Homo sapiens: one gene and its partners. The protein of the gene in region 1 interacts with the protein of each later gene in a biochemical or structural test. Each region holds a gene or a part of one and is shown in the gene's direction. Other genes may lie near its edges.

Region 1 (5,395 bases):
TAAAAATACAAAAATTAGCTGGGTGTGGTGGCAGTCACCTGTAATCCCAGCTACTCAGGAGGCTGAGGCAGGAGAATTGCTTGAATCCACGAGGCGGAGGCTGCAGTGAACTGAGATCATGCCACTGTACTCCAGCCTGGGTGACAGAGCAAGACTTTGTCTTTAAAAAAAAAAAAAAAAAAAAGATTCTGATATGTGAAAAAGGCTGCAACAATATGCCTAGTTAAAGCTTTTTGTATTTATGTATTTACTTTTTAAAATTTTAAATTAATAGAGACAAGGTCTTAACCCTGTTGCCCAGGTTTAAGTACAGCAGCATGATTATGGCTCACTGCAGCCCTGAACTCTCAGCCCATGCGATCCTCCTACCTCCATCTCCTGAGTAGTTGGGACTACAGGCATGTACTACCACACTTGGCTAATTTAAAAATTATTTTTTACAATTATTTGTAGAGACATGGTCTCACAGTGTTGCCCAGGAACTCCTGGGCTCAAGCAGTGCACCAACCTTGGCCTCCCAAAGTGCTGAATTACTGAGTTCTCTCTGTATTGTCCAGGCTGGCCTCAAACTCCTGGGCTCCAGCGATCCTCTTGCTTCAGCCTCCTGAGTAGCTGGGACTATAGGTGCACACCACCATATCTGGCTTTTCTACACCTTTAAAAAAATTTATTTTTATTTTGTAAGTTCCAGCATACATGTGCAGGATGTGCAGGTTTGTTACATAGGTAAACATGTGCCATGGCGATTTGCTCCACCTATCAACCCATTACCTAGGTATCAAGCCCAGCATGCATTAGCTGTTTTTCCTGTTGTTCTCCCACCCCTCATCCCTCAACCCCCACCAACAGGCCCTAGTGTGTGTTCTCCTCCCTGTGTCCTTGTGTTCTTGTTGTTCAGCCCCCACTTATAAGTGAGAACATGCAGTGTTTGGTTTTCTGTTCTTGCATTAGTTTGCTGAGGATAATGGCTTCCAGCTCCATCCATGTCCCTGCATAGGACATGATCTCTTTCCTTTTTATGGCTGCGTAGTATTCCATAGTGTATATTTACCACATTTTCTTTATCCAGTCTATCATAGATGGGCATTTGGGTTGATTCCTTATCTTTGCTATTGTGAATAGTGCTGCCATGAACATATGTGTGCATGTATCTTTATAATAGAATGAATTGTGTTCTTTTGGATATATACCCAGTAATGGGATTGCTGGGTCAAATGGTATTTCTGGTTCTAGGTCTTTGAGGAATTGCCACACTGTCTTCCACAATGGTTGAACTAATTTACATTCCCACCAACAGTGTAAAAGTGTTCCCATTTCTCCACAGCCTCGCCAGCATCTCTTGTTTCTTGACTCTCTCTTTTTTTTGAAAAAGAGGCTCACTTTGTCACTCAGGCTGGAGTGGAGTGGCGTGATCTCAGCTCATTGCAACCTCCTCCTGGGTTCAGACGATTGTCCTGCCTCAGCGTCCTGAGTAGCTGGGATTACAGGTGCCGCTGTCATGCCTGGCTAATTTTTCTATTTTTAGTAGAGATGGGGTTTCACCATGTTAGCCAGGTTGGTCTCAAACTCCTGATCTCAAGTGAGCCACCTGCCTCGGCCTCCCAAAGTGGTGGGATTACAGGCATAAGCCACTGGGCCCAGCCTGTTTCTTGACTTTTTAATAACTGGCATTCTGACTGATGTGACATGGTATCTCATTGTGGTTTTGATTTGTGTTTCTCTAATGATCAGTGATGTTGATCTTTTTTTCATGTTTTTTTGGCCACATAAATGTCTTCTTTTGAGAAGTGTTCATGTTCTTTGTCCACTTTCTAATTGGGTTTTTTTAATTGTAAATTTGTTTAAGTTGCTTTTACAACTTTTGATGATGACCATGCGGTTCACTTTTGCCTTAAATTTTAAAAAGAATGTATTTAAACGGTTTCTTTTATAATGCTTTTATTGTTCTTAATGTTACTTTGATAATCTGAAGCAAATTAATTGTATAATTTCTTTCAAATTACAAAGGAATTGCTATTTTATAGCATTAGTGGTACATTTTGACTTGTAATCCCCAAATGGAGAGTTAAAAAATAATTTCTGGGCCGGGCGTGGTGGCTCATGCCTGTCATCCCAGCACTTTGGGAGGCCGAGGGGGGTGGATCACGAGGTCAGGAGATCAAGACCATCCTGGCTAACACGGTGAAACCCCATCTCTACTAAAAATACAAAAAATTAGCTGGGCGTGGTGGTGGGTGCCTGTAGTCCCAGCTACTCGGGAGGCTGAGGCAGGAGAATGGCATGAACCTGGGAGGCGGAGCTTGCAGTGAGCCGAGATGATGCCACTGCACTCCAGCCCTTGGCAACAGAGCGAGACTCCGTCTCAAAAAAAAAAAAAAAAACAAAACATTTCTGTTAAACTGTGATGGTTGTGAACGAGCCTCTCTTACCTTCTTTCCTGGTTCTGTTTTGGGGGAACTAAGAACTAAAAACGAAGAAGCTCAGGAGAAGACATTAAGAATTAACCATAGGCCAGGTGTAGTGGCTCACGCCTGTAATCCCAGCACTTTGGGAGGCTGAGGTGGGTAGATCGTGAGGTCAGGAGTTCGAGACCAGCCTGACCAACATGGTGAAACTCCCATCTCTACTAAAAAAAAAAAAAAAAGCAAAAATTAGCCGGGCGTGGTGGTGTGTGCCTGTATTCCCAGCTACTCAGGAGGCTGAGGCAGGAGAATCACTTGAACCCAAGGCGGAGGTTGCAGTGAGCTGTGATGGTGCCACTGCACTCCAGCCTGGGCAACAGAGCGAGACTCCATCTCAAAAAAAAAAAAAAAGAATTAACTATAATAATTTGCCTGAGAAATAACCAGTCTGATAATGTAGTTATAGGTCACAATTTTGTCAAGCACAAAATTATGCAATTTTTTGTTACATTTCTTTGAAAAATACATTTTGATATTTTTTCCTTTAGATCCTCCAGGTCCTATTGACAATACTAAGATTGCAGTCACTAAATGTGGTAATGTGATGCTTAGGCAAGGTAAGTTTGACTCGTATTTAAGCTTTTACTTGTGAGTGATTTGTCACTGTTAGAAATATGTTATCATTAGTCATCTATAGTACTTTTTTATTCAACTGAAGAATGTAATCCATACATTAACTAGGGCAAGTAATGAAAAGCAGCCACTTTTTTTTTATCTGAGGAAAGGTCTTAAGGCTGTTGTTAAGAGCAAAGCAAAAGCATCTCTGACTTTTTAAGACAAGCCATATGTTTCAGCTTATAACAATATGGGCTGGTAGTCTGCAGATTCATGTTCCAGAAGTTCTCAATTATCCCGAGAAGATTCATGCTGGGGGGTACATTATGAACGCTTTTGCAATATGAATATATAGGTTTGTAAACATTATTTCTTCTACGTAATTTTAAGGAGCAGATTCTGGCCAGATTTCTGAAGAAACATGGAATTTTCTGCAGTCTATTTATGGTGGAGGGCCTGAAGTTATCCTGCGACCTCCGGTTGTTCATGTTGATCCAGATATACTTCAAGCAGAAGAAAAAATTGAAGTAGAAACTCGGTCTTTGTAATTTTTAGGATGTAGAGAGTTCTAATGAGGAATCATTTTCATGTGCCCTGACATGTACACATGCGAAAACATTCCTAAAAGCGTGTTTATTTGCTTTATTTTTTTTCATCATTTATCCCATTTATTTCTTCTTAGTGGGCATTATGGAAGAATATATTAAAATGTGTAATATACCACAGGTTGGTATATTTAGTTTTAAATACTTACCATAAAGTCTTTCAGTGTAATTTTTTTTTGAGACAGAGTCTTGCTTTGTCACCCAGGCTGGAGTGCTGTGGTGTTACCTCAGCTCACTGCAGCCTCCACCTCCTGGGTTCAAGCGATTCTCCTGCCTCAGCCTCTCGAGTAGCTGGGATTACAGGCACCTGCCACCATGCCCGGCTAATTTTTGTATTTTAGTAGAGATGGGGTTTCACCATGTTGGCCAGGCTAGTCTCAAACTCCTGACCTCAGGTGATCCACCCACCTCGGCCTCCCAAAGTGCTGGGATTACAGGTGTGAGCCACAGCGCCTGGCCCAGTGTAATATTTTTGAAAGAGGAGGGACAATTGTGAAATCAGTAGGTTATCTTTAATCTTTACACTACATGCAGATCCATAGTATCCTTTGTAGTGTTGTAAATACTTTTGCTTTGAAAACTTTTTCATTGTCCTAAATCACCCTGACTCTGACCAGTCTTTCAGTTCTCCAAAAGCCCAATTTAATTGTATAGTTTTGTCATGGCTTCATATAATAAAGAGCCTATTTTAAGTTGAAAGTAGTAGTCAGAAAATTGTTAATTTCCTAAAGCTCAGGAAACTAGGGTGTCACTTTTTTTGCACTGCAGCATATACACTAACTAGCTTATTAAAATTTACAAAATGTCTTTTTGAATGTATCAAGGATATATTTAGTTTGAGTGGAATTTGTCAGCAGATATCAGTAACTTATTGCCGCTTATATTGTACAATGTTAAACTTCAATTCCTGTAACCTGGTTAGTATTAATGTCAGTGACTAAAAAACTTAGAGTTAGTTTTAGGGCACTTTTTATTTTGAGAGCATGAAGTGTGGAATGTGTCACTACGATTGTTGATAAAGCTGAGGCCACTTGCAACTTGATTTTTTAAATGAAATAGATAAAGTCTTTTTGAATAATATAGTATGCACTGCTATTTGCTTGATTATGTAATGTCAAAAGTTTAACTATATTCCAAGTACAAAAACATACTGGATTACATTGAGGATGTTGAATAGCATTCATGATGGCTTTGTTTTGGTTTGGGGCAGCTGTCACCAGCTAAAGCAATGTTGTTAAAATTAGCTCAATAAAAATGTCTTTAAAATGTAAAACTTGAATGTTGAATTTATTTGATAGATGTTAAAGGTAAAAGGTGCAAAGTTTGTTAATATTAATACCTTCTTGCTGTTCCTATTTTATTTTATTTATCTATTCTTTTGAGACAGAGTCTCACCCTTTCCCAGGCTGGAATGCAGTGTCACAGTCTTGGCTCACTGCAACCTCCGCCTCCCAGGTTCAAGTGATTCTCCTGCCTCAGCCTCCCAAGTAGCTGGGATTACAGGTATGAGCCACCACACCCAGCTAATTTTTGTATTTTTAGTAGAGATGGGGTTTCACCATGTTGGCTGGGCTAGTTTCAAACTCCTGACCTCAGGTGATCCACCTGCCTTGGCTTCCGAAAATGTTGAGATTACAGGTGTGAGCCACTGTGCCCAGCCAGTTTATTTTAAAATTTTTATTTATTTTGAGACTGGGTTATGAGACTGGCTAATTTTTATCTCTTTTTTTGGTAGAGATGGGGTTTTGCTATTTTGCTCAGGCTGGTTTCAAA
Region 2 (7,682 bases), on another chromosome or scaffold:
ACCTCAAGTGATCTGCCGGCCTCAGCCTCCCAAAGTCCTGGGATTACAGGTGTGAGCCACCCCACCTGGCCCGTTTTTCCTCTTATTGCCTCCTATCCAATCCTTCAAGTCCTGGCATTCAAGGCCTCCAAAATACATTAACCCAATAGCGTTAATTTTTCTCCATCTCCACTGCCGCTCCGGTCCAAATTACCATTCACTCTCACCTAGTCTATTACAAAGCCTTCGTTGCTCTCTGCTTCCCTCTTAGCACCCTGTAGTCCCTTCACACAGCAACCAAAGTGGTCTTTTCAAATGTAAACAAGTTGTTGTCACTCCTAGCTTCAACCCCTCTGTGGCTTCCAAATGTGATGAGAATGAAATCCCATCTCGTCACTGAGGCCTAAAAGAATCCACCCAATCTGACTCATACCCACCTCCCTGACCTCAACACATACCACAAGTACCCTTTTCCTTCTCTCTTCCTATTCTTGAGCCACGCTAGCCTTCTATTTTCCAGCAAAGCCCATTCTCACATCCGAACCTTTGCACATGTTGCTGATTATGCTGGAGAAACTGTCCTTTGATTCTATGTAACTAACGCCATTTTGCCATCCTGAGACGACTTCTTTTTCGGTAGCTCCCACTCCAACCCCCATCAGCCTCCATCACATTTGCCTGTTTATAATTCATGTCATTACCAGAAATTTGCTTTCTTATTAACTATCTCTTGTCTAAAATACAAACTCCATGAAAGGGCTCCTGTCTCCTACACTATGCTATTCCTATCACCTAGAACAGTGCCTGGTACATAAAAGGTGCTGAAAAAATATTTCCCCAGGCTGGAGTGCAGTGGCATGATCACAGCTCACTGCAGCCTTGACCTCCCAGCTCAAACGATCCTCCCACCTCAGCCTCCCTAGTACATGAGACTCTAGGCACTAGCCACTATATTTGGCTCATTTTTCGTTTTTCGGAGGTTTTTTGTTTTCTTTTTTCCTCGAGATGGAGTTTCGCACTGTCACCCAGGCTGGAGTGCAGTGGCGCGATCTTGGCTCACTGCAAGCTCTGCCTCCCAGGTTCAGGCCATTCTCCTGCCTCAGCCTCCCAAGTAGCTGGGACTACAGGCGCCTGCCACCATGCCGGCTAATTTTTTGTACTTTTTTGTGGAGACAGGGTTTCACCACGTTAGCCAGGATGGTCTTGATCTCCTGACCTCGTGATCCGCCCACCTCAGCCTCCCAAAGTGCTGGGATTACAGGCGTGAGCCACCACGCGCGGCCCGTTTGTTTTTGAGACGAAGTTTCACTATTCTCACTCAGGCTGGAGTATAACGGCACGATCTCAGCTCACTGCAACCTCCGTCTCCCAGGTTCAAGTGATTCTTCTGGCTCAGCCTCACGAGTAGCTGGGATTATAGGCTAAATTTCACGATGTTAGCCAGACTGGTCTCGAACTCCTGACCTCAGGTGATCCACCCCCCTCGGCCTCCCAAAGTACTGGGATTACAGGCGTGAGCCACTGCACCCAACCCCCTCTGCTTTAAAAACCAGTACTGGTTCCACATGTCCTTCTGTGGGGCCCTCCATCTCACTCCATCTGCTATACAAAATCCTCCACAGCCTGTTCCAGACTTCCCCACCAACACTACGCAACAGGACGTGCCTTGTCTCTCTCTTTGAAATGCCCTTTCTCAACTTCTGCCCAGCCAGGCGCGGTGGCTCACACCTGCAATTCCAGCACTTTGGGAGGCTGAGGCAGGTGGAACACAAGGTCAGGCGTTCGAGACCAGCTTGGCCAACATGGTGAAACCCCGTCTCTATTAAAAATACAAAAAGTAGCCAGGCATTGCAGGTGTCTGTAATACCAGATACTCACGAGGCTGAGGCACAGAATTGCTTGAACCCAAGAGGCAGGGGTTTTGTTGAGCCGAGATCCCACCACTGCACTCCAGTCAGGGTGACAGAGTGAGACTCCATCTCCTAAAAAAGAAAAAAAAAAAGAGGCTGGGCGCAGTGGCTCACATCTATAATTCCAGCACTTTGGAAGGCGCAAGCAGGCGGATCATTTGAGGTCAGGAGTTCAAGAGCAACCCGGCCAACATATTGAAACCCCATCTCTACTAAAATATATATATATAAACTAGCGAGGCGTGGTAGTGGACACCTGTAATCCCAGCTACCCGGGAGACTGAGGCAGAACAGCTGGAACCCAGGAGATGGAAGTTGCAGTGAGCCGACACAACACCAGTGTCCAGAATTTGTAGGGGGTCTCACTGACTTTAAGAATGAAGCCATGGACCCTCACAGCAAGTGTTACAGTTCTTAAAGGCAGCATATCCGGAGTTTGTTCCTTCTGACGTTCGGATGTGTTCAGAGTTTCTTCCTTCTGGTGGGTTCGTGGTCTCGCTAGCTCAAGAGTGAAGCTGCAGGCCTTTGCGGTGTTACCCCCCTTAAGGCCGTGTCTCCGAAGTTATTCATTCTTCTTAGTGGGTTCGTGGTTTCACTGGCTTCAGGAGTGAACCTGCAGACCTTCCCAGCGAGTACTACAGCTCATAAAGGCAGTGTAGACCCAAAAAAGGAGCAGCAGCAAGATTTAACCGCAAAAAACAAAAGAACAAAAGGTCTACCTAACAGAAGAGTACCCCAGTGCATTGCAATTGCCGGTTCAGGCAGCCTGCTTTTATTCTCTAATCGGCCCCACCCACATCCTGCTGATTGGTTCATTTTACAGAGAGCCGATTGGTCCATTTTACAGAGAGCTGATTGGTCTGTTTTGGCAGGGTGCTGATTGGTGCATTTACAATCCGTGAGCTAGACACAAAAGTTCTCCACGTCCCCACTAGATTAGCTAGATACAGAGTGTAGACACAAAGGTTCTCCAAGTCCCCACCAGAGTAGCTAGATACAGAGTGTGGATTGGTGCATTCACAAACCCTGAGCTAGACACAGGGTGCTGATTGGTGTGTTTACAAACCTTGAGCTAGATACAGAGTGCCGATTGGTGTATTTACAATCCCTTAGCTAGACATAAAGGTTCTCCAAGTCCCCACCAGACTCAGGAGCCCATTTGGCTTCACCCAGTGGATCCCGCTTGGGGGCCGCAGGTGGAGCTGCCTGCCAGTCCGCATGTGCTTGCACTCCTCAGCCCTTGGGTGGTCGATGGGACTGGGTGCCTTGGAGCAGGGGGCGGTGCTCGTCGGAGAGGCTCGGGCCGCACAGGAGCCCACGGAGGGGGAGGGGAGGCTCAGGCATGGCGGGCTGCAGGTCCCGAGCCCTGCCCCGAGGGAAGGCAGCTAAGGCCCAGCGAAAAATTGAGCACAGCAGCTGCTGGCCCAGGTGCTAAGCCCCTCACTGCCCGGGGCTGGCCGGCCACTCCGAGTGCGGAGCCGCCGAGCCCACGCCCACCCGGAACTCGCGCTGGCCCGCAAGCACCGCGCGCAGCCCGGGTTCCCGCCCGCGCCTCTCCCTCCACACCTCCCCGCAAGCTGAGGGAACCGGCTCCGGCCTTGGACAGCCCAGAAAGGAACTCCCACAGTGCAGTGGCGGGCTGAAGGGCTCCTCAAGCGCGGCCAGAGTGGGTTCCAAGGCCGAGGAGGCGCCGAGAGTGAGTGAGAGCTGCCAGCACGCTGTCACCTCTCACCACTGCACTCCAGCCTCGGCGACAGAGTGAGACTCTGTCTCAAAAAAAAAAAAAAAAACAAGAAAAAGAAAAAAAACTTCTGCGCATCCTTCAGAAAGACTGTCCTCATCTGTTCCCCGCTCTGGACAGCCTGCACTCCCTCCACCCCCGCCCGGGCCAATTGCTGTTAGCGGCTGTGTCTTCTGACTCAGACCTCTGTAATAGCATTCCTGGGTAATACCTGTGTATGTGTCTCCTCAACTATTCTAGGAAGGCAGGGGCCATGGTAATTCGTATGTGTCCCCATCGATTGGCATAGTGAATAGCATAACATAGGCACGGATGGATGGGTCCATAGATGGACCGATGGATGGGAGCGGGTGAGTGAGTGGATGTTAGCTGGGATGGGTGGGTGAAGGAGATGGATAGTCAGAGACATTGGAAAAGGGAACCCTGCGAAGATCAAATGCAAACACCAGGAGGAGCTGACACGCTGCAGTGAAGAAGCGGGAGGGCTGGCCACAGAAGGCGGCACGCTCCGAGTGGAGCAGGTGAGCGGCGCGCACTGAAGCAAGCATCACGCAATTGAACCGCTCACCCACGTGTTCCCCCCCACCATCCTCCTTCCCAGACGGCGCTTCAGCTCATTCCACCGCCCCCAGCAGCCCGGTCGCCCCCACCGCCACTGAGAAAGCAAACAAAGGGGAGGAGACCCCTGCAGGTTCTGGATGCCGAAGGCCAATCGAAAGACTTAGATCCCCTGGAAGGCGGGCGCCTTGGTTTAGGGGGGTCCAATCGGTTTCAAGGGGTTGCAGCGGGGCGGGGAGATGGGCGGGAGGAGTGGGAGCTGGCCCCGCGCGCGGGGGAGGGCTACCAGGCTGGGAAGGAGCGCGAAGGGCTGGGGGCGGAGCCAATGGCCCCGCGTGTCTGCTAGGAGAGGGCGGGCAGCGCCGCGGCGCGCGCGATCCGGCTGACGCATCTGGCCCCGGTTCCCCAAGACCAGAGCGGGGCCGGGAGGGAGGGGGAAGAGGCGAGAGCGCGGAGGGCGCGCGTGCGCATTGGCGCGGGGAGGAGCAGGGATCTTGGCAGCGGGCGAGGAGGCTGCGAGCGAGCCGCGAACCGAGCGGGCGGCGGGCGCGCGCACCATGGGGGAGAAACCCGGGACCAGGTAAGGGAGGTGGGGCCACGCGGCGGGGCATGGGCGGCGGCTCGGGGCGGGGGCTGGGACGGTCCCAGACGAGGGCGCAGCGGAGAGGATCTGGGGGCCGGACGCCTGGGTCCCTAGGGACAGCCATCCGGGGCCGCACGCGCAGGTCCTCGAGGATAATGAGGGTGGGGGGGAAATGCCCGGGCCCCTGCAGAAAGCGAGGCCTGAGGGGGATCAGAAAAACCGGTGTCGGGGTTCTCGCAGGGATGTGGGGCCAGACTACTGGGCTCTCCCGTGCAGGCTGCGATGCAGGGATGGAGGAAGGAGGAGCAGGTGGCTGGCCCCGAGGGGTCGTGTACGGGGAGGCTGGATGCCGGGACGGGGGGGATCCACTCCAGACTCGCGCCAAGCCAATGGAAAGCCTCCTATCCAATATCCCCCAGGTAGTCGCGCTGCCCACACCTGTCCCGAGGGCCGGGTGGCTCCTCACCCAAACTTCTACCTTCCCTTGGGTTGCCAGGAGCAACAGCTTCATCTTGGGGGAGCCGAGTGCGTGGCGACCCTCCCTGAAACTAGATCGTATCCCTCTCTCTGGGGGTGGGGGAGGCAGTATTCACCCTGGGCGCGCGTCCACTCCCCGGATGTTTTCTGTGCAATCGAGGCTCTTTCCTTCCACTGATACCCCGAGTTCTCTTTTTTGGTCTCTAGCAAAATCCACTTCCTGTTGTGACTCAACACCCCCAAGGGGCAAGGGGTGGATGCCTGAGTCGCAGGGGAGCGGGAGCAAAAGACGAAAAGGTTGGGGCTGTAGGCCTCAACTCAGAGGGTATCAGGAATAGGGAATTGGTCCTGAGCTCTGGCTTGCTCTGCAAAACATCATATCAACCCCACTTCCAACCTATAGAGTATGAGAACCCGGGTTTCTGAGCATCAAGTAGACGAGCATCAGAAAGAGATCATCAGAGAGATGATCCGTCTCCTGGATCAGGGTTTAAACATCCCAGAGAAAGGGGAAGTTGCTGACTTGTGGGAGGCCCCTGATTTCCGTCATGTGGTTCAGGGAGTGGGACGGATGGACCAAAGGAGACTGCTAACTTGGCACAATTTCCCTCACCCCCATGAAATTCTGGGCCACAGGAAATGGAGCGAATAGCAGGAAGTGTGAAAGGACATCTGCTTCAGCTACCCCTGCTCCCACTGGGCACCTCCCTGGTCATCCCCACACTCTGCCTCCTTGGCCAGCCTAGTATATGCACGCTGCTCCTCCCCAGCCTGGCAGGAGGTGGCTGGGTTAGGATCCAAAGGGCAAGTGCCTTGCAGCTGCTCCAGGGCAATTGCCCCAGAACCACACTCCAGTTGGCCCACTGATTGTGGCTGTCACAGCCCTGTGCCAGGGCTCCTAATGGGAGGACACCCTGGGACAAAGAGGAAAACCAGAAGCAAAGGGGAGGGAGAGCCTGGATGATGCCACGGCACTCAGCTCCCAAGTTGGGATGAAAGATAGGGTGTTTATTCTAGCGGCTACCATATCGATGTGTATTCTCTTTTATTGGTTAGGAATACCTGGGGCCCTCCATACCCTTTGCCTTACAACCTTTGGACAGCTTGGCTTTCTGGGAAGAAGGGGCAAGTGAAGTTGTAGCAGAAACTGGGCCTATGGTAGAAACCATGTAGGGCCAAAGGCCAGGGTCATTGCTCTCCTATATGCTCCAGCTGTCAGAGCTGGAGACCAGATGGAAAGATGGTTAGGTCTTACCCAGACACTGTGGTAACCTGCCCATTGGGGTCCTCTGGGAATGGGGTGGTAGACTTGGAAGAGGGATGGGCTAGTTGGCAGGATTTCACGTTTCTGCTATCTATCTGAGGATCCTTTCCAGGGATCACTGCTGAGGCAGAGTGGATTGGAAGGAGTAAGGTGGTGCTTCAAAGAACAGGCCCACAATTGGCCAGATCACTGGGGTTGCCAAACACTTCCTTACCCTCCCAGCAATGGGTGGAGTCCAGGCTTAAATTGTTTCAGCAACTGGAAAGCAAATAACCTTCAATTCAACAAACTATTTATGCCAACTGCAGAGACAGATAGTGTAATATTGATCGAGAGGATGGACTCGGAGCCAGACTGCCTTGGTTTCTATTAATTCCCACCATTTACTCCCTCTGTGACCTTGAAACACTTGACCTCTCTCTGCCTCAGTTTCCTCACCTGTAAAACAGAGATATTAGGAGCTCCATCACTGGGTGGTTTTATTTAATTTAATTAATTTATTTATTTATTTATTTTTTGAGACAAAGTCTTGCTCTGTCACCCAGGCTGGAGTGCAGTGGCTCAATCTCAGCTCACTGCAACCTAAGGCCGGGCACGGTGGCTCACGCCTGTAATCCCAGCACTTTGGGAGGCTGAGGCGGGTGGATCACCTGAGGTCAGAAGTTGGAGATCAGCCTGGCTAACATGGGGAAACCTCGTCTCTACTAAAAAAATACAAAATACAGGCCAGACACAGTGACTCAAGCCTGTAATCCCAGCCTTCTGGGAGGCTGAGGCGGGCGGATCACTAGAGGTCAGGAGTTTGAGATCAGCCTGGCCAACATGGGGAAACCCCATCTATACTAAAAATATAAAAATTAGCGGCCGGGCGTGGTGGCTCACGCCTGTAATCCCAGCACTTTGGGAGGCTGAGACAGGTGGATCACGAGGTCGGGAGATTGAGACCATCCTGACTAACACAGTGAAACCCCATCTCTACTAAAAATACCAAAATTCGCCGGGCGTGGTGGTGGGTGCCTGTAGTCCCAGCTACTCGGGAGGCTGAGGCAGGAGAATGGCGTGAACCCGGGAGGCAGAGGTCGCAGTGAGCCGAGATCGCACCACTGCACTCCAGCCTGGGCGACAGAGTGAGACTCCGTTTCAAAAAAAAAATTAGCCAGGCATGATGGC
Region 3 (5,931 bases), about 74 Mb from region 1:
TGCCCATGGTCTGAGAGCCAGCGCCCTACTACTGATTCCACAGCTGGGGGTGGAGGGACTTCAGACCTAGCCCCCACCCTCTGGCACACCCAGCACTTCCCCTACCTTTCCTTCCCACCCTGCCGTCCCTGCTGCCTGCTTTCTACCGTGCAGGACCCAGGGAAGAGATCGTCTACCTGCCCTGCATTTACCGAAACACAGGCACTGAGGCCCCAGATTATCTGGCCACTGTGGATGTTGACCCCAAGTCTCCCCAGTATTGCCAGGTTAGGCGGGGCTTGGGCGCCAGCTACTTTGAGACCATAGCTGCCCTCATCCCTGGCCCTGGGCCCCCCCTTCCCAGCTCCATCCTTCTTGGCCCTCCCTGGGGATGCTTGTGCACGCTCAACCTGGGACAAGGGGAGTGCTGAAATCCAGCCTGTGCCGTGCTTCCAAACCAAAATGAGTCCACAGGGCGCCTCTTCCAAAAGTGGACAGAGGCGTGGCCTGGGGGAGCACCACCTCTCCCCGCATCCTAGGTCATCCACCGGCTGCCCATGCCCAACCTGAAGGACGAGCTGCATCACTCAGGATGGAACACCTGCAGCAGCTGCTTCGGTGATAGCACCAAGTCGCGCACCAAGCTGGTGCTGCCCAGTCTCATCTCCTCTCGCATCTATGTGGTGGACGTGGGCTCTGAGCCCCGGGCCCCAAAGCTGCACAAGGCATGTCCTCTGCCCTTGCCAGCTCAGTAGACCATAAGACACCTGCCACCCCAGGTAGTCTACGGGCAGGAAGCCAGACCTAAACCAGCAGCCTCCAGCTCTTACGCGGCAACTGGCTCGGCAGCAGGGAGGGAGGTTGGACCTCAGAGCAGAGTCTACCCAGGCATTCTGGGTCATCACCCTCCAGCACGGTGACCAGGGCATGGGAGAAGAGGGACAAGGCTTCTTGTTTTACTCTGAGAGAGGGAGGGAGCCATTTATTCCCCCATGCAGTTAGGAGCTCAGGGTTCTCTTAAAAATTCCGGTCTCTCCCAACACTTTGTTTAGTGCACTTTTGGTGCCAGGCATTTACTGTGTTGTCTACTGGTAATACAGAGTTGACACTGGTGTAGGCCAGCCTGGGAGGAGCTTATGGTTTCACAGGGCTGCGTGTGCCTTCAGGACACATGGGGAAAGGTCAGCGCTTTCTGCCTGGGGAGTTATTAGCAATCTCTCTGACTTTCCCTTGCTGCTCTGTAGAAGTTACCAGACTGAATCTTTGTCATATTCCCACAGGGAGAGTTGTGTCCATGTTTTGAAGGAAAAGATGACAGAGTCAGCAGATAGAAGTAGGGGAAGTATGGAGGTTAAGAGCAGGGACTCCCAGTCCTGTATGATTCTGACACCATTCCCCACCCCTTCCAGGTCATTGAGCCCAAGGACATCCATGCCAAGTGCGAACTGGCCTTTCTCCACACCAGCCACTGCCTGGCCAGCGGGGAAGTGATGATCAGCTCCCTGGGAGACGTCAAGGGCAATGGCAAAGGTACCTGCCAGCACTGTGTGCTCATGAAAACTTCCACAGCTGTGAAATGTGGGAAGCATTTTTCTGTGGGAGGAGCAGAATGGAAGGGGAGGGTTGGAATGACTTCCCAAGGAGAACCAGTGAGCTGGATCCCAGCCAGTATTTTAAATGTTAGCAAGTAACTTCAGTTTTGAATATTTCTATTAAGATGAGTCTTCACTGATGAATTCAGTTCAAAGTTATAGTCAAAACAGGCCAGGTGTTGTGCCTCACTCCTCTAATCCCAGCACTTCAAGAGGCCGAGGCCAGCGGATCGCTTGAGCTCAGGAGTTCCAAACCAGCCTGGCCAACATGGTGAAACCCCATCTCTGTGTTGTCTGCTGATAATACAGAGTTGGCACTGGCAACTCTGCACTAAAAATACACAAATTAGCTGGGTGTGGTGGTACAGGCCTATAACCCCCACTTCTCAAGAGGCTGAGGTAGGAGGATCACCCGAGCCCAGGGAGGTCAAGGCTGCAATGAGCTGTGATTGAACCACAGCACTTCAGCTTGGGCGTCAGAGTGAGACCCTCTCTCAAAAAAATGTAGTGAGCAGAATGGAGCTTAGACTCTGGGAGGAATCCCACTCCAAAAGTGGGAGGCTGGACAAGAGAAATACCAGGTGCTGAGTCCCAGAAGATCTCGTGGGAGAAACGTTTCTGCTGTGGTCTGAGAGAGAGATGAAGTAGACAGGAGACAGGGGCACTGGCGTAAAGGCCCCCCTGCCACCTGGCCAAATTTGAATACCTGGATGAGACCCTTTGGATGCCTGAATTTTTTATTTACTTTTTCTTTTCTTTTTTCTTTTTCTTTTCTCTTTTTTTTTTTTTTTTGAGATGGGAGTCTCGTTCTGTTGCCCAGGCTAGAGTGCAGTGGCGCAATCTCAGCTCACTCCAACCTCCGCCTCACTGGTTCAAGAGATTATCCTGCCTCAGCCTCCCGAGTAGCTGGGATTACAGGCATGTGACGCCATGCCTGGGTAATTTTTTATATTTTTAATAGAGACAGAGTTTCACCATGTTGGCCAGGCTGATCCTGAACTCCTGACCTCAAGTGATCCGCCCGCCTCAGCCTCTCAAAGGGCTGGGATTACTGGCATGAGCCACTCTTCCCCCAGCCCTGGATGCCTGAATTTAAGGAACTGGCAAATCCAGCAGTGGAGGTAGAGGCAATGGGCTTACAGCCTCTTAGACATGCCTCGGGGAGAGGGCTGGAGGGTGGGGTTAGTGTCTCTACTGCTTCTACCTGCCACCCTGCTTCCTTCCCTGTTCAGGGGGTTTTGTGCTGCTGGATGGGGAGACGTTCGAGGTGAAGGGGACATGGGAGAGACCTGGGGGTGCTGCACCGTTGGGCTATGACTTCTGGTACCAGCCTCGACACAATGTCATGATCAGCACTGAGTGGGCAGCTCCCAATGTCTTACGAGATGGCTTCAACCCCGCTGATGTGGAGGCTGGTGAGAATCCCCCCATGTGCCAGCAGGAGCCTTGGGCCTACATCCCCTTGCTTTCTGCTCCAAATCTCCCACCCCCACACTTCCCTCCTGTGGCCCCAGAATCTAAGAGAGATGGCATAGGATGTACCGCATGCTCAGATTGCTCAAGCGTCTTCCTGATCCCTCCAATCCATTTCTTAACCTTCTGCCCTGATTGGTGGCCCAGTCTTTGCCCATGCCTTCCAACCTCTGATGCTGAGCCTATCCTCCGGCCCCACTCCCACCCCAGGACTGTACGGGAGCCACTTATATGTATGGGACTGGCAGCGCCATGAGATTGTGCAGACCCTGTCTCTAAAAGATGGGCTTATTCCCTTGGAGATCCGCTTCCTGCACAACCCAGACGCTGCCCAAGGCTTTGTGGGCTGCGCACTCAGCTCCACCATCCAGCGCTTCTACAAGAACGAGGTGACATACGCCCTCTGGCCCTCCCCTCCCAGTAGTCTTGTCAGCAGCTCTACCTAAGCAGGCTTCTGTAACGGTGCTCCCAGGCGTCTCCAGGAACGAAAAAAATGAGGCTGCATGCCCTGTCTCTCTTCTCTCAGTGCTAGGGCAACTTCTGCCTGAACCCTAACTGGCCGTATTTATCCATTCATTCAAAAACTACTTAGTGAATGTCTGTGCTAGGCACTGTGCTATGTTCTGGGAATGCAGTGGTGAAGCAGACACAACCCCTGCCTCAAGGGGCTTGCATGGAGTTAGATCCTGCTGGCAAGAAGGCCGGGCATCTATTCTCTCCCTCCCAGGTCTGGGCAACCCAGATCTAACCCCTAGTCCCCAATTCTGATAGGCTGACCTCTCTGCCAGCTAACCTCACCCTCCACCCCTCAATGTAGGGAGGTACATGGTCAGTGGAGAAGGTGATCCAGGTGCCCCCCAAGAAAGTGAAGGGCTGGCTGCTGCCCGAAATGCCAGGTGAGTGCCTAGGGCATAGGAAAGTTGATTCTTGGCCTGGGAAACAAGAGTCCTTAAAGGCTCTACTCGCCCCCTGCCCACAGGCCTGATCACCGACATCCTGCTCTCCCTGGACGACCGCTTCCTCTACTTCAGCAACTGGCTGCATGGGGACCTGAGGCAGTATGACATCTCTGACCCACAGAGACCCCGCCTCACAGGACAGGTGGAGACCCTGGCAGGAGGAGCAGAAGGGAAGGAAGGAAAGAGAAGAGAAGCTGGGGATGGGGTGGATGATCTGAAGCAGCTGCAGGATGTTGAGGGAGGTGCAGGAAAAGCAGACATGTGTGCTGTGGGACAGCACAGGCCCAGGACTGTCCAGGCCAGGGATGGGCATGCAGAGCATGTCTGAAAGGAGAGAGGGGTTCCAGCCAGGCAAGCTGCTCTTCCTGCAATGTTTGCGCCTCCCACTATGGTCCTCCTTATACTCTGCACCTCCCCATCTAGCTCTTCCTCGGAGGCAGCATTGTTAAGGGAGGCCCTGTGCAAGTGCTGGAGGACGAGGAACTAAAGTCCCAGCCAGAGCCCCTAGTGGTCAAGGTAAGAGCCTCTCCCCCTACTTGCTGGACCCCTCAGACCCATGCTTGAGGAATATGTGGGGGAGCAGCTGAGCATACTCTTGGGGTTGGGGTGGTGCCTAGGATCTGTGTGTTACCCTGGGCTCTGACCCCTGGTTTTCCCAAGGGAAAACGGGTGGCTGGAGGCCCTCAGATGATCCAGCTCAGCCTGGATGGGAAGCGCCTCTACATCACCACGTCGCTGTACAGTGCCTGGGACAAGCAGTTTTACCCTGATCTCATCAGGTGAGAAGCAGACACATGGGCTCTCCTCCCCAGCCCTCCTCTTCCAGAGGGGTCATTTGGCTTTCTGAAGACTCCTCAAGGAGACCCCTGTACCCCACCACACAGATGGCCCATTGAGACCCTGGTCATTCCTCCTTCCTCAGGAGCTTTCCCCTAAAATCTTAGGGGAAGGGGGCAGCCACCTCTGACCTCTCCCTTACCCCATTCCCTTTTCCACCAGGGAAGGCTCTGTGATGCTGCAGGTTGATGTAGACACAGTAAAAGGAGGGCTGAAGTTGAACCCCAACTTCCTGGTGGACTTCGGGAAGGAGCCCCTTGGCCCAGCCCTTGCCCATGAGCTCCGCTACCCTGGGGGCGATTGTAGCTCTGACATCTGGATTTGAACTCCACCCTCATCACCCACACTCCCTATTTTGGGCCCTCACTTCCTTGGGGACCTGGCTTCATTCTGCTCTCTCTTGGCACCCGACCCTTGGCAGCATGTACCACACAGCCAAGCTGAGACTGTGGCAATGTGTTGAGTCATATACATTTACTGACCACTGTTGCTTGTTGCTCACTGTGCTGCTTTTCCATGAGCTCTTGGAGGCACCAAGAAATAAACTCGTAACCCTGTCCTTCAGATGGCCTTGTCTTTGGGGGCCCAGGGCCTGTGTCTCTTCTTCTGCCTACCCTTTGTATCATGCACAAGAAAGGGCTAAAGAGGCCTCCAGTGGGGGTTATGGTAACTAGTTCACACCAGTGATTCCAACATGATGCTAATAATGCCCAAATCTCAATTTTATGGCCAGACAAAATCTGAAAATTTTGGGGGTGATCGTCACAAGGAGACCTGGGGGTAGAGAATGTAAATCGGTGTTTCTAAAGTTTTGGTTTTTTTTTAACCCATGCTTTCTTTTAATGAACCTAAAAATCTCACCCATCACTCTCAAGAGAATGTAACATGCTCCCTCACACACAGGAGACCCCAGGATCCCTGTTGTGTATAGTGTAATATATTTCCACTGATGGCAAGACGACTGGGAGAACGCAGCTGTTGGGAGGTTTATCAGGCTGCTCTTGCATTGCTATAAATGCCTGAGACTGGGTAATTTATAAAGAAAAGAGGTTTAATTGGCTCATGGTTCTGCAGGCTCTACAGGAAGCATG

Evidence for each region. Proteins that work in one complex are often made in the same cells at the same time.
Region 2: of the proteins of USP33 (region 1) and ARRB2, one has a biochemical effect on the other in vitro, tested with the Homo sapiens proteins (2 studies listed by BioGRID, with this or other methods).
Region 3: the proteins of USP33 (region 1) and SELENBP1 form a complex in vitro, tested with the Homo sapiens proteins (one study listed by BioGRID and IntAct).

The regions. Positions count from the first base shown.
Region 1 is NC_000001.11:77,695,487-77,700,881, reverse strand, and holds the end of USP33 (ubiquitin carboxyl-terminal hydrolase 33), read left to right. Parts: intron 1-2,950; coding exon 2,951-3,019; intron 3,020-3,407; coding exon 3,408-3,565; 3' UTR 3,566-4,895; downstream 4,896-5,395. UniProt on the Homo sapiens protein: Deubiquitinating enzyme involved in various processes such as centrosome duplication, cellular migration and beta-2 adrenergic receptor/ADRB2 recycling.
Region 2 is NC_000017.11:4,705,977-4,713,658, forward strand, and holds the start of ARRB2 (beta-arrestin-2), read left to right. Parts: upstream 1-4,655; 5' UTR 4,656-4,745; coding exon 4,746-4,768; intron 4,769-4,782; exon of another isoform or gene 4,783-4,797; coding exon of another isoform or gene 4,798-4,913; intron 4,914-7,682. UniProt on the Homo sapiens protein: Functions in regulating agonist-mediated G-protein coupled receptor (GPCR) signaling by mediating both receptor desensitization and resensitization processes.
Region 3 is NC_000001.11:151,363,777-151,369,707, reverse strand, and holds the end of SELENBP1 (methanethiol oxidase), read left to right. Parts: intron 1-153; coding exon 154-266; intron 267-518; coding exon 519-704; intron 705-1,388; coding exon 1,389-1,509; intron 1,510-2,532; exon of another isoform or gene 2,533-2,692; intron 2,693-2,803; coding exon 2,804-2,986; intron 2,987-3,254; coding exon 3,255-3,433; intron 3,434-3,861; coding exon 3,862-3,940; intron 3,941-4,023; coding exon 4,024-4,145; intron 4,146-4,426; coding exon 4,427-4,519; intron 4,520-4,663; coding exon 4,664-4,782; intron 4,783-5,002; coding exon 5,003-5,165; 3' UTR 5,166-5,404; downstream 5,405-5,931. UniProt on the Homo sapiens protein: Catalyzes the oxidation of methanethiol, an organosulfur compound known to be produced in substantial amounts by gut bacteria. Selenium-binding protein which may be involved in the sensing of reactive xenobiotics in the cytoplasm.